Linked DNA regions of Homo sapiens. The protein of the gene in region 1 interacts with the protein of each later gene in a biochemical or structural test. Each region holds a gene or a part of one and is shown on either strand. Other genes may lie near its edges.

Evidence for each region. Proteins that work in one complex are often made in the same cells at the same time.
Region 2: the proteins of PRX (region 1) and DRP2 form a complex in vitro, tested with the Homo sapiens proteins (one study listed by BioGRID).

Annotation. Positions count from the first base shown.
Region 1 is NC_000019.10:40,395,930-40,403,917, forward strand, and holds part of PRX (periaxin), read right to left. Parts: intron 7,934-7,988; coding exon 7,777-7,933; intron 3,376-7,776; exon of another isoform or gene 3,328-3,375; coding exon of another isoform or gene 3,246-3,327; intron 2,888-3,245; coding exon 2,691-2,887; coding exon of another isoform or gene 2,628-2,690; exon of another isoform or gene 2,042-2,627; coding exon 1-2,041. UniProt on the Homo sapiens protein: Scaffolding protein that functions as part of a dystroglycan complex in Schwann cells, and as part of EZR and AHNAK-containing complexes in eye lens fiber cells.
Region 2 is NC_000023.11:101,222,786-101,230,278, reverse strand, and holds part of DRP2 (dystrophin-related protein 2), read right to left. Parts: intron 5,676-7,493; 5' UTR 5,573-5,675; intron 1-5,572. UniProt on the Homo sapiens protein: Required for normal myelination and for normal organization of the cytoplasm and the formation of Cajal bands in myelinating Schwann cells.

The sequences.
Region 1 (7,988 bases):
TGGGCATGGTCATCTTGGGCATCTTGAAGCCAAATTCCATCCCTTCTGCCTGTTCTGCCTTGGTGGCCTTTAGCTGCACCTCCGGAGCCCTGGGCAGCTTCACCTCTGGTGCCTTCGGAAGATGCACGTCGGGAACCTTCGGCACTTGCATTTCCGGCAGCCGAATCTCTGACACTTTCGGCAGCTGCACCTCGGGGAGGTGCACATCGGGCACAGCCATCTCAGGCACCTTGGGGAGTTTTATCTCTGGGAGCTTCATGTCAGGGACTTTCATTTCACAGACTTTGGGCAGCTGCACCTCTGGGAGGTGCACATCGGGCACGGCCATTTCAGGCACCTTGGGGAGTTTCATCTCTGAGACTTTTGGCAGCTGCACCTCGGGGAGTCGAACCTCTGGCACAGCCATCTCAGGCATTTTAGGGAGTTTCATCTCTGGGACTTTCGGGAGCTGCACTTCCGGGAGGTGCACATCGGGCACAGCCATCTCGGGCACCTTCGGGAGTTTCACCTCAGGGAGTTTCATCTCAGGGAGCTTCATCTCTGGGACTTTTGGAAGCTGCACTTCTGGGAGGTGCACATCGGGCACGGCCATCTCGGGCACCTTCGGGAGTTGCACTTCAGGGAGTTTCATCTCAGGAAGTTTCATCTCAGGCACCTTTGGAAGCTTCATCTCAGGGACTTTCATCTCTGGCACTTTCGGCAGCTGCACCTCTGGAAGCCGCACCTCTGGCACAGCCACCTCTGACACCTCTGGGAGTTTCATCTCTGACACTTTCGGCAGCTGTACCTCTGGAAGCCGCACCTCCGGCACAGCCATCTCTGGCACCTTTGGGAGTTTCATCTCCGACACTTTCAGCAGCTGTACCTCTGGAAGCCGCACCTCCGGCACAGCCATCTCTGGCACCTTTGGGAGTTTCATCTCTGACACTTTGGGCAGCTCTACCTCTGGAAGCCGCACCTCCGGCACAGCCATCTCTGGCACCTTTGGGAGTTTCATCTCTGACACCTTGGGGAGCTCCACCTCTGGGAGTCGAACCTCTGGAAGGGCTGCCTCGGGCACTTTTGGAAGCTTGACCTCAGGAGCCTTGGGGAGCTTCACTTCAGGTCCCTTGGGCACCTTGACCTCGGGCCCTGACACTCCGATGCCAAGGGAGGGCATCTTGATGGTGGGCAGCTTCAGCTTGCTCTCTACAACTTCAGGAGCAGCGGGCCGGGGCTCCAAGAGGGAAAGCCCAAAGGTGGGCATTCGAAGTCTGGGACCTTTCACCCTGGCCTCAGGGCTGACCTTGGCTACCTTGGCCTCAGCAACTTCCTTTGCTCGAGCCCCAAATCGGGGAAAACTAAGGCGGGGCATCTTCAGGGCCACCTCAGGTGCCTCTCCCCGGGCCTCCACCTCTGCACCCGGCAAGGCCAGGTCCACCCCCACAGTCGGTGCTGCCACATCCAGGGTGGGCACCACTACCGACACAGCCCCTTCCCGGGTCTCTAGGCAGGGAAGTGTGGGCAGAGTGGGCAGTGAGGGCAAGGCAGGCAGCTCCACCTGGGGGACCTGGATTCCCACGGCTGGGGCCTCCACAGCAGGCGGAGCCGGGGCTCCGAGCCCAAGGGTTGGCAGGTGGAGGGCAAAGCCACCAGCTGCCTCTGCTGAGGGGGCAGCCTTGGGGGCTGAGACCTGGGGGACACCCACCTCCGCCCCTGGCAGCCGCGGCCCAACCAGCTCCACCTGAGGGGCTGTGAAACGAGCTCCTGCAGCCACCTCAGCCTCCACCTTGGCTTTCCTGGGGGGAGGAGCGGCGGCGGCCAGCCGGGCTGCCTGAGCCTCTTCGGCCACTTCTCGTACACGCAGCCGAGGCAGCTGGAGGCGCCGGCGGGCAGGGGCAGCCGGGACAGGACCCTTGACAGCCTCGGCTTTGAGGCCCCGACGCAGGCGGGAGAACTTGGGAAAGGAGAACTCGACGTCAACAGGGGCCAGGTCAGCGGGGACCCCCAGAGCCCCAGGCACCATCTTCTTCTTCTTCACAGGGGACAGACTCTGGATGTTCTGGGGAGAGAGGAGAGAGGCAGGAGGCGGTGGGACAGTGGGAGGCTGGGAGTGGACAGGAAGAGCCCCACCTGGTATTGGACCAGGCGGGGGATGTGCTGGGTCAAGTATCTTGTTCCCCAAACATCATCCCCACTTCTTGCCTGTCATTTCACCATGAGTGCCCAGGAAAGCAGGCAGCCATCTAGGATCTCCAAATGAGTCAACAGGAGTGTAGGGACGGGGACCCAAGACTTCTAGATCCTGATCCGGGATTTTCCCCAACATCCTCATTCTAGAGATGGGGAAACTGAGGCCCAGGGAGAGAAACAACTTTGTCCAGGGCCACTCAGCAGTAATTGGGCCAGCACTCAGGCTGGAATCTGGCTTTCCTGGTTCGAAGTAGCCTGGTTCAGGACCCCTAGCAAGCCTGGATCCGATGGTGGGGACGCCTCTCCGAGGTGGGTGAGGGCCCTGGGCTGGGGTGGGTCTGTCCCCCTTCCCGGGGAAGAGTTTGGGGCAGAGAGGAAGGGGCAGAGGGTGGAATTAGCTTGGGTTAGTGACAAGACAGAGGGCAAGGCTGGCCCACGATGGCGGGGAATGGGGCTCACGGCGCAGAGACCGGATCGCTGGGGCAGTCCAGGGCCGGGGCCGGGCTAAGCACGCGTACCAGCTTGGCCACCTTGGCCCGCGGGCCCTTGATCTCGTAGCCAGACACGGTCCCGGGCCGCAGAGCCAGGTCCCCGGTGGGCACAGTGCGCTTCAGGCAGAAGGAGACTTTGTAAGGCTCGGCGCATTGCAGCAGGCGTAGTGCGTCCTCGTACTTGAAGTTCTCGAAGAACACTCGGGCACTCAGCAGCTGGTCCCCTGCGGGCGAGGTGGAGGTGCGCAGCACGTGGGCATCTCCCGGCTCCGCCCGGGCCTAGTTCTGCCCACTTGCACGGAGCCCTCGCGGTGAGGACCCGCCCCAAATTTTAGTTTCTCCAATCCCCAGCGCAGGATTAAGTCGCAGTTACGCTAGTCCCCGCCCCATGACCTTATCCCCGCCCCCTGCAATGAACAAAGCCGCGCCCACTCAGGCCACGCCCGCACCTTGTCGCTCCCCTACCCATCCTTACGTTTCAGATACTGACTTTGCTTCTTTTACCGAGAGAACAGAATCAGAAGGGAACTTCCAGAATCTCCCACACTGTGTGTTCACCCCCTTTCTCCTGCGGCGACTTACTCCATTCGCCTTCCTGTTCCTGGGGATGAACTAACCCCACTCCTAGCTCAGGGCAATCTCTCCACCGCCTTCTCAGGGACATCCTCCAGCAATTCTCTCCTCTTCCCACGTCATCAGTTGTCCTTCTCGTCTACATTATTCCCATCAGCATACAAACATATTATTATTTCTCGCATAAGAAAGGTTGTCATGGCCTCACTCCCCCGGAGCTCCTGCCCCATTTATCTGTTCACCTTAATAGGCAAAAGGTATTGAGTTCTCCAGTGGCATTGTTACCAGTTCTCCAGTCACACCTCTGACCCTGCTTTCCAACACGCACATCTGAACTGCTCCTCTCAAGGTTCCAGGCAGTGACCTCTGTATAGTAAGTCCAAGGGTCAAGTCCCAGGCCTCATCTGCTTAAACCACTCAGCATCTGATCTAACCTCACTCTCTGTCATATCCTTGCTTCCCTTGGCTTCCAAGGTGCTACACCCTCTGGAGCGTCTCTGGGAGTTCCTTGTCAGTCTCCATAGATGTTTGCTTTCCCTCTCCCTGATTTCTTTCTTTCTTTTCTAAACAGTCTCACTATGTTGCCCAGTCCAATCTCAAATTCCTAGGCTCAACTGATCCTCCCACCCCAGCCTCCCAAAATGCTGATATTACAGGCGTGAGCCACTACACCCAGCTTTCTTTCCTTTCTTTCTTTCTTTCTTTCTTTCTTTCTTTCTTTCTTTCTTTCTTTCTTTCTTTTTCTTTCTTTCTTTCTTTCACCCAGCTTTCTTTCCTTTCTTTCTCTTTCTTTCTTTCTGTCTGTCTGTCTTTCTTTTCTTTTCTTTTCTTTTTTAGATGGAGTTTTGCTCTTGTTGCCCAGGCTGGAGTGCAATGGCGCGATCTTGGCTCACTGCAACCTCTGCCTCCCGGGTTCAAGCGACCCTCCTGCCTCAGCCTCCTGAGTAGCTGGGACCACAGGCATGCACCACCACACCCAGCTAATTTTGTATTTTTAGTAGAGACGGGGTTTCTCCATGTTGGTCAGGCTGGTCTCGAACTCCCGACGTCAGGTGATCTGCCCGCCTTGGCCTCCTAAAGTGCTGGCATTACAGGCGTGAGCCACCGTGCCCAGCCCCTCCTCTTTTTTTTTTAAGACAAGATCTCGCCAGGTGCGGTGGCTCATGCCTGTAATCCCAGCACTTTGGGAGGCCGAGGCAGGTGGATCACCTGAGGTCGGGAGTTCGAGACCAGCCTGACCAATATGGAGAAACCCTGTCTCTACTAAAAATACAAAATTGGCCAGGCATGTTGGCACATGTCTGTAATCCCAGCTACTAGGGAGGCCGAGGCAGGAGAATCACTTGAACCCGGGAGGCGGAGGTTGCGGTGAGCTGAGATCGTGCCATTGCACTCCAGCCTGGGCAACAAGAGCGAAATTCCATCTCAAAAAAAAAAAAAAAAAAAAAAAAAAGACAAGATCTCACTCTTCACCCAGGCTGTGGTACACTGGTGCAATGACAAATCACTGCAGCCTTGAACTTCCAGGCTCCAGCGATCCTCCTGCAAATGCAGGCCCGTGCCACCACACCCAGCCTCTCTGGCCTCTTAAAGACACACTACCCCAGACCTCAGGACTTGGACCTCCTCTCTGTCTACATGCTCAAGTCACCCCTTGGGAATTCTTGGGAAGTTCATCCAGATTGAGAAGTTAAAAGACCATAAATCTGCTAACAATTCCCAAGTATATCTCTCCAGTCCAGCACTCTCCCCTCCACCCTAGACTCACATCCAACATCTCCATCATATCTCCACCTGGGTGTCCCACACCACACCTCTCCTTTAACAGATCCAAACTGTACTCCTGGTCTTTCTTAGTACTAGCCTCAGTGTGCTCCTTTTGAGGGACCAGCAACTCCATCCTCAGGTCAAAAATCCCCAGATCCATCCTGGACAACCCTCTTTCCATCATACCCAATATCCAGTCCTCAAAGCTCCTCCTTCAAAATATATTCAGAATCCAAATATATATATACCTCCAAAACCCTTTGGTCCTGAGCATCCTCATCTCTTACCTGGATAATCACAGTAGCCAGTTTGTTGATCTCCCTGCTCCTAAACCTGCCTTCATATATTCTACTGTTTGTTGTTGTTGGCCTTGTTTTTGAAACAGAATCTTGCTCTGTTGCCCAAGCTGGAGTGCAGTGGTGTGATCATGGCTCATTGCAGCTTCAGTCTCCTGGGCTCAAGCGATCCTCCCGCCTTGGCTTCCCCGAGTGCTGGGATTACAGGTGTGAGCCACCCAATGCTTGGCCATACTCTACTGTTAATGCAGCAGTTCAGCACAGTCAATTCACGTTTCTCCCTGCTCACAGCCCTCACAGAATAAAAGCCAAAGTCTTATAAAGCCCTCTAAAAAGTGTCCTCCCCTTACCTCTCTGGCCTTCTCTCTTACTCTCCTCTTCACTAACTCAATTGCGTAGACACTGGCTTCCTCACTGTTTCTACCACAAGCTAGGCATGGTCCCACCTTGGGGCATTTTTGCTGTCTGTTCCCTCTTCCAGATGGCCTCATAGCTTGTTCCCTTACCTCCTTTAGCCTTTTCACCCTTTCCAGCCCACCCCTTTTTTTTTTTTTTTTTAGGCGGAGTTTTGCTCTTTCGCCCAGGCTGGAGTGAAGTGGCGCGAACTCGGCTTACTGCAACCTTAAGCAATTCTCCTGCCTCAGTCTCCTGAGTAGCTGGGATTATAGGCGCCTACCACCACACCCGGCTAATTTTTGAATTTTTAGTAGAGACAGAGTTTCGCCATATTGGCCAGGCTGGCCTCGAACTCCTGACCTCAGGTGATCAGCCCACCTCAGCCTCCCAAAGTGCTAGGATTATGCACCCAGCCAAGCCCACCCCCATTTAAAAATGCAGCTGTAGGCCGGCCTCGGTGGCTCACGCCTGTAATCCCAGCACTTTGGGAGGCCGAGGAGGGCGGATCACGAGGTCAGAAGATGGAGACCATCCTGGCTAACACGGTGAAACCCCGTCTCTACTAAAAATACAAAAAAAATTAGCCGGGCATGGTGGCGGGTGCCTGTAGTCCCAGTTACTAGGGAGGCTGAGGCAGGAGAATGGCGTGAACACGGGAGGCGGAGCTTGCAGTGAGCCGAGATCGTGCCACTGCACTCCAGCCTGGGAGACAGAGCAAGACTCCGTCTCAAAATAAATAAATAAATAAAATAAAATAAAATAATAAAAATGCAGCTGTAGCACATTGTCCTCCTGGCAACTGTAGCACTTACTGCTTTCTAATTTACTAGGTATTTTACTTAATTTGCTTAAATATGTCTCTCCCGGCTGGGCGCGGTGGCTCACACCTGTAATCCCAGCACTTTGGGAGGCCGAGGCGGGCAGATCACGAGGTCAGGAGATCGAGACCATCCTGGCTAACACGGTGAAACCTCGTCTCTACTAAAAATACAAAAAATTAGCCGGGCGTGGTTGTGGGCGCCTGTAGTCCCTCCCAGCTACTAGGGAGGCTGAGGCAGGAGAATGGTGTGAACCCGGGAGGCGGAGCTTGCAGTGAGCCGAGATTGCGCCACTGCACTCCAGCCTGGGCAACAGAGCGAGACTCCGTCTCAAAAAAAAAAAAAAATCTCTCCCCACTGGAATGTAAGCTCCATAAGTGCAGGGACTGTTGTTCAGTTTTGTTCACGGCTGAAGCCCAAGCAGCTAAGATAATGTCTGACATAGGGTGGGGCACGGTGGCTCACGCCTGTAATCCCAGCACTTTGGGAGACTGAGGCGGATGGATCACCTGAGGTCGGGAGTTCGATACCAGCCTGGCCAACATAGTGAAACCCCGTCTCTACTAAAAATACAAAAATTAGCCGGGCGTGGTGGAGGGGACCTGTAATCCCAGCTACTCAGGAGGCTGAGGCAGGAGAATCGCTTGAACCAGGGAGGCGGAGGTGGCAGTGAGCCGAGATCGTGCCATTGCACTCCAGCCTGGGCAACAAGAGAGAAACTCCGTATCAAAATACATAAATAAATAAAGTCTGAAATAGAAGGCACTAATAAATAGTTGTTGCATGAATAAATCACGTCAGCTTCATCCATATCCTAAAACATCCTTTACTCTTCCCAACCCCTCTAAGTGGCTCACTCCACCCTTTTCTCCTGCCCCAACAACAAAAACATTTACTAGCACTCACATAGTTAAGCACTATGTGCCACTTAGCTATGTGCTAAGTGTTTTCACATACTGACTCGTTAAATCCTCAATACATAATAACCCCATACTAGAATAAGTCCCATTTCAGAGATGAGAAAACTGAGGCACAGAAAGATCACAAGCTAGTAAACGGGGGATGTGAAATTCGCACCCAGACAGTGAACCTCCGGAATTTGCTGTGAACAGTCAGCAAAGCCCCGCCCCAAGCCCTTAACCCCTCCTGGTCGCCGGTCACGCCCCCATCCCCCGGTCAGTTTCAGCCTCTCTTTGGACCCAAGGCAGATTCCTAACCCCGCCCCCGCAGTTCGACCCCGCCCCACACCCCGGGCCCGCCCACCTTCCTGCAGGCTGAGGCTCCTGGCGGCGGGTGAGTCCTCGCGCAGCTCCCGAACGAAGATTCCCTCTTTGCCGCCGCCCGCTACGTTGATGCCGCTGACCCCGGTCTGCGCCTCCGTCTCCACGATAATTTCCACCAACTCCGCCCGCCTCAGCTCCTGCAGAGGGCGGCGAGGTGTCGCGTTGGGGCTCTAGGGCCGGACCTCGCCCAGA
Region 2 (7,493 bases), on another chromosome or scaffold:
TGCTGGGATTACAGGCATGAGCCACTGTGCCTGGCCGAGATTTGCATTTTAGAAAGAGCCCCCTGCCTTCCTTATAGAGTGATTCTCCAAAAGGAAGAACCTGTTGAGAAGCTGTTAGAATAGGCAGGCAGTTGCCGTGAGGATGAAGCAGACAGCATGACTCTGAGGTACATTGGAGAGGTAAAATACACTGGGCTTGATGATCAATTGGATGTGAACAGTAAGGGAGGAGAAGGAGTCAAAGGTTTCTAATTTGGGAGCTGAGTGGATAATGTTGCCAACAGCAAGAGAAGGAAGACAGGAGAAAGAGTAAATTTGCTGTGTAGGGAATAGGGGCAGTGTTGCATAATAAGCTATGCTTGAGACATATTCAGCTTTAGATGTAAAGAGCTAAGCTTAGTAAAGGAGAAATATGGGGACAAAGTTTAGATGTACAAACCAATTGATGGTTTAGAGAATGTAAACAAATGTGATGAGAATGGGTGGCAAAGATGATGCTTGCAAATAATAAGGTGATCTCTTTTAGTGTGGGGCAAAGACACACAAACCCTGATTCAAAGGGCCGGAACTGAGCATCTTTTATTCATGATGCAGATAATTAAATAACCACCATTTTTAGACTCTATTCCAGTGGTTCACAATGTTTTAGATATAAGAGGCCCTTCTTAAGACTAAAAAAAAAAAATCTCACTTCACCCACTCTCACCCACAATAGTAGCTGTACTTTTAGAACTTACCGAGTGAGAAAAACATTTATGCATTTAAAGATATGTGGACTCCTTGCATTAAGTACCCACCCCTCCTCCTCAGGAGACCATAGTCCAAAGAATGGAGATTATTACAAATCACAAGGGCACAAGAGGTTGTGGTCTAAAGGGTACTTTGTTGTAGTCAAAGTCCCTATAGATTATACAGCTATGTAGCTACTCATCCCCAAAGAATGACTGAAAATATGGCTCCTCTGTGATCAGACACCACAAAAGCATTAGTCACTTAGATTAAAAAATGAAGTACTGCTATGGATGTGTTATAAGCATAAAGGCTACAAGAGGCTTGCTTTCAGACCTCTTTTTATGTTAACATTTTTATTTTTGCTGATTATAGAAGTAATACATGTTCTTGATAGAAAAACTGGGAAATACAAAAAATAATAAGGATGAAAATAAAAATAATCTGTAATATTACCACCCAGAGATAATCATTACTAACAGCTATGAACTTTAGTTTTTCTCTGAAAAATATATACATACACTTTTAAAATAAAATCGCCATCACATGCTATCATTTCGTAGCCTGCTTTTTTCACTTGCCATTATATCATGGTCATTTTAGAATGTCATTAACTATTCCCTTAAAACATGATTTTTTTTTTTGAGACAGGGTCTCTCACTTTGTCACCCAGGCTGGAGTGCACTGGCGTGATCTTGGCTCACTGCAACCTCCCAGGCTCAAGAGATCTTCCTGCCTCAGTACCCCCAGGTAGCTGGGACTACAGGTGTGCACCACAATGCCTGGATAATTTTTTGTATTTTTGGTAGAGACGGGGTTTTGTCATGTTGCCAGGCTGGTCTCAAACTCCTGAGCTCAAGTGATCAGCCTGCCTCAGCCTCGCAAAGTGTTTATATTACAGGTGTGAGCCACCACGCCCAGCCTAAAACATGATTTTTAACAGCTGCATAGGAAGTACAGCACTGTGACTGAGGCCATGGGCACTGGCATCAGACAGACCTAGAGTCAAATCCACACTATTCAACCTATTAGCAGTGTGGTCCAGGACAAGTTAACCTCTCTGAGCCTCAGTGTCCTCATCTGCAAAATGGGGATAAATAATGATAGCATCCTCACAGAATTATTCTAATGATTAAAGTTAATAATTTAAATAACTTAGCACAGTGTCTGGCAACAATACACAACTCAATAAGTGTTAGCTATCGTCATTGTATAGTATCCCACTGAATGGATACACCATAGTTTAACAATTAGACATATGTTTATAGTTCTTCTTTTTTATAAATCAAAGTGCAGTGAACAACCTTGTGCATATTTGTGATTCTTTCCATAGGATAATTGCCTATAAGGGAGAATTCCTGGATCAAAGCGTTTATGATACATATGTCTAAATTGCCCTAGAAAAAGTTATATCATTTTACACTACTACTAGCAATGTATGAGAGTGCCAGTTTCCCAGCACACTTGTCCACAGTATGTATTCTTACTTTATTTGCCAACTTTGTAAGTGAAAATGGCATTTTGAGGATTACTTTGCGTTTCCTTAATTGCTAAAGATATTTAGCTTTTCCTCCACACTTTTAGTGGTCGTTTGTATCTCTTCTTTCATCAACTATCTCTTTTCTTCTCTTTTGAGATTCATTTCTCTCCAGATTATAAGATTCTTTCTTATTCCTCTACTGACCTGATGCTAGGTTAAGGCTTCACAAAACAAAACTAAGATAAACCAAGGAGTCAGAGAATTCAGACCTTCTAATCCTAACACAGGCAGAAAAGGAATAGATTTCTTCTGGTCCTAAAATGACTATCCTCTGCTCTTTTTAGACTTTGCCCCTGACTGTGACCTCAAGTCATATTGCCTCTCTAGGCCTTAGTTTGCTAATGTATCAAGTGTTAATGTTTAAGGGTTGCTAAGCACCAAACACTATCATTCTCTGTATTCATATAGCATGCCTTTGTAGTCGGCTGTGCTGTCTTTCATGATCCTCAGTACAACCTAGTAAAGTTGTCCCAGTCAGAATTAAGATCCCACTTTACAGATGAAGATGCTGAGACACAAGTGAACCAGGGCCTCCTGATTCCTGGGCGAGTACTCTTTGTTATACACAAAGATTCTTCTGCCTCTATCTAGCTCCATCCTATCTCAAATCACCATCTGCACATACTGATTTTTTTCCTATTCCTCTTTTTAATTTGCAAAGGCTATGAGAGATTGAAGATGAATCAGACTTGGTCCCCAACTGGTCAAATGTAGGAAACAAGACATATAAACAAACAAAAAAAAGGATAATTTTAGCGGGGAAAATTATTCATACCATACGTGGGTGCTGTGGTTTGAATATCTGTCCCCAATGTGACAGTATTGAGAGCTGGAGCCTTTAAGAGGTGATGAGGGCTTTGCCCTCATGAATGGATTAATCCACTCATGGATTAATGAATTAATAAGTTATCACGGGAGGAGAATTCATGGCTTTATAAAAAGAGGAAGAGATATCTGAACTAGCACACTAAGCCCTCTAGCCATGTGATACTCCGTGCCATCTTGGGATGCTTCAGAGAGTTTATGACAGCAAGAAGACTCTCACCAGATGCAGCCCCTCAAACTTGGACTTCTCAGCTTCCATAACTGTAAGAAATAAATTCCTTTTCTTATAAATTACTCAGTTTCAGGTATTCTGTTATAAGCAACAGAAAATGGACTGAGACAGCAAGACACAGAAATTATGGTATAAGAGGTCACAGAGGAGGAAGTGTTCACTTCTAGTTGGAGGGATTTGGGATGTATTTATGGAAAAGAAGCTTTCGAGCTAAGGTGAAAGAGAAGATTTTGACATATGCAGGTGTGGAGGATGCTTTTTGGGTGGCAATAAGCCTTCCCTGCCCTCCCCTAGGGACCCTGCTGGATACCAAACTGTGGCTTTTTGCTACTACAAATACTCTTCCTGGTTCTAAAAGCCATACACAGGCTGTTTGAGGAGGATTCAGTGGGAAGGCATTGTTTCTCTTGAGCAGAGATAAAAAGCTTTAAAAACACAGGGGAGATATTAGGATTTCAGCATGAAAGCAAGATTGTTGGCTCATGGGGGACAAAACCCACACCTGATATTTATTTATATCCCACATATTTTTAACACAGTGCTAGGCACCCATAAACTGGAGATGTATAGGAACATATGCTACTTAAATTTGTGTGGAATAATGTACAATGTTAGCATTTGAAACAAGTACAATAATAAGTACAATGTCAGCATTTGAAACAAGGCTTGAAATGGCAAAAAAAATTGCAAAAACTTAAACGTCTATCACTAGGGGACTAATTAAATAATGGTGTATCCATACAATGGAATTCTATACAGCTACTTAAAAAATAATTAAGAACTCTTTATATGCCAATACAAAATGATCTCTTATGATATACCTTAAGTAAAAAGAAAACAAGAGAAAAATCAAGGTGGTGGTTAGTCTACATTTGTATACTAAAAATATGTGCTTATAGATGCAAAAAAATATCTTTGGAAGTATACAAAAGAGCCTGTTACCATTGGAGAAGGGAACTGAGCAGTAAAAATTCTCCCCATGTCTTTGGGATTTCTACTATTTCTGCCCTTTTCAAAATGAGAAATATACCTATAAAAGTACATAAAGCATATATGTAAAGTATATTAAATTATTATAAAGTAAATTCATATAATCACTTCTCAGGTTGAGAAACAGAATTATTCCCCACACCACATAAGCCCCATGTTGCCAATAGGAGATAAAATTTTTTACTAAATATCATTTTGTACTTTTTGAATTTTGACCCATGTGAACACATTACCTATTTAATAACAGCTAATTCTTCGCCCCCTCTCCGCTCCCCACCAAAATACAAGGAGGTCAACAACTATTTTATGGAAAGATTGGTGTGCCAGCTTTTCCATAATCAAATAAATAATAACTGTATTCTGTGTTTTATATATATTAACTAAGCAGTCTACATACATTAACTCATTTAATCCTTACAACAACCCTATAAAGTAGTTACTATTGCTATCCTCATTGTGTGGATGAGAAAATGGGGGCACAGAGATGGTAAGTAACTTGTTCAGAGTCATATTGTGAATACATCGTGAAGAGCTGGGATTTGTACCCAGGCAGTTGTGTCTCAGAATACAAGTTATTTATCATTATGCTATTCTGCCTCTGTAAATTCTAGAACCCAGGCTCTGAGGCATTGTAATCACTGATACCTGGAAAGTGTATCCATACAATGGATACAATGGAGACAATTTTTGGCTATAGACCACCAGGTGCGAGCCCAAGCATTGACTCAGTTATGCCACTACCCAGGCAAAGACACAAGCAATTAAAAACAGATAAGATGCAGTGAGTCTAATGGGGCAGCACCAGGCTGGCAAATCATGAAAAGCACTTAAGTGACCTTTATAGGACATCTGAGAAGTGAAATTCTGGTCAAGTCTCCTATTTTAAGCTCAGAGCCTCCCCAATGCCTAGAGCTCAATAAATTTTTTTTTCAATAAATAAGCTCTTTCCACCTAGAAACCAGAGAAATCTAAGAGCCTATGTTACAAAAAGACCTCCAGAAGTGGACAAAGATGTTTGCTGCAGTATTGTTTGCAATAGCAAAAATCTGCATTCACTCAAATGTCCACCAGCGGGGGACTGGTGAGTAGACTATGTCTGAGACATATCACAGCATTATTGTCTGGGACATAGGCTCTGAACCAGGATGCTCTGGCTTGCACCTTGGCCACTTATCGGCACATATATGGACAAGCTCCCCAACCTTACTGTGCTCCAGTCCCCACATCTGTGAAACAGGGATAACAAAAAGACCTACCTCTTAGCTTTGTTGAGAGGAGTTAATTCATAGTTTCTGGCATTTAGTAGATATTCAAATGTTATCTATTACGATAGCCACTCACACGGCGAATATTATGTAGCTGTTAAAAAGAAAGAGGTAGATCTATATGCACTGATTTGGACAGATTTCAAAGTTATATATTTTAGGCCAAAGAAAACAAATGCCAGAATAGCATGCTTAGTGGAACTCCAATTTTGTAAAAACATTTTTAAAAAATCTACTGTGCGCATGCGCAGAAAGGAAGCCTGGACATCCGGGTTTTTTGGGCTTTTTTTTGTTTTTTTTTTTGAGACGGAGTCTCGCTCTGTCGCCCAGGCTGGAGTGCAGCTGGAGTGCAGTGGCATGATCTCGGCTCACTGCAACCTCCGCCTCCTGGGTTCAAGTGATTATCTTGCCTCAGCCTCCCAGCCGAGATTGTGCCACTGCACTCTAGCCTGGGTGACATAGCGAGACTCCATCTCAAAAAAAAAAAAAAAAAAAAAAAAAAAAAACAAAAAAAACCCAGCAAACATTTATTATTCTTGGGAGAAAAAATTCAAGAGATAGGGAAGACTTCTAAGATGTAGAGGTTCTGTAAAGAACAGGGCAATGGGAAGGCGACCCCCTTCCCATGGGCTACAGAATCCTCTCCCCAATCCAAGGTAACACTGTGTAACTGCCTTTTCTCTCATACCACTGGCTTTCTACCTGACAGCATGGCAGTAAGAGAGAAGATACACATTTCACTGGTAACAAACTTTGTTATAGTTCCTAAAATAATTCCTGCAATGCACCCAAAAAACCAAGGTTCTGCTTCAGATGTACCTGATTTAATGAATAAATCATAGAAACTCAGATTTTCAAGCTAGAAAGGACCTTTGAGATCATCTAGGCCAATCCCCTCATTTACAAATGAAAACAAGGAAACGTATTCCTGAGAAGTTTAGCTGTCAAGCAATTTTGAGAAATAAAATTTATTATCCAATTAAAAAATCAGAGATGCATCCCCATGGGAGAAAACTCTAAGAGCCAATTAATGCAATAAACCTGAAACCTTTATACACTGATGGTGGGAGTGTAAGTTAGTAAACTATTTTGCACAGTGATTTGACAATATCTCCCAAAGGTGACAATGCACATACCCTGTAAGGGGACAATTCCACCCAGATATTTACCCAGTAGAAATTGTCACCTAAGAATAGCTACACAAGAATGATCACAGTACCTCTGTGATTGCTCAAAACTAGAAATAGCCTAAATGTCCATCAACAGCAGAATAGATAAAGTGTGGTATAGTCATTACAGGAGTATACAATAGTGAAAAAAATGAGTAAACTAGAGACCCGTGTTACAACATGGATGCTTTTCACAAATATAACATTGAATAGAAAAAATAAGTTTCAAGGCAGGTGCAGTGGCTCATGGCTGTAATCCCAACACTTTGGGAGGCTGAGGCAGGAGGACTACATGAGGCCAGGAGTTTGAGATCAGCCTGGACAACATAGCAGGACCCTGTCTCTATGAAGGAAAAAAAATTAGCTGGGCATGGTGGTGCCACCTGGGGGGTGGTGAGGCTGGAGGATTGCTCCAGCCCAGGAGCTCGAGACTGCAGTGAGCTATGATCACACCACTTCACTTCAGCCTGGATAACAGTGCAAGATCTCGTCTCTTGGCGGGGAGAAAAAAGAAAAGAGAAATCACGTTGCAGAAGAATACGTATGATACACCACTGATACAAACTTTTAAAACATATAAAGCAGTAGTATATGTTGTTTAAAAATATATACATGTGTAGTAAAAGTATATAAATCAATGCATGGGAATAATAAACACCAAATCCAGGATAGTGGTTACTTTGGAAGGAAAGAGAGAACTTTAATCATGGAGAATAGACAGAAGGTTTCAACTCTACTGGTAA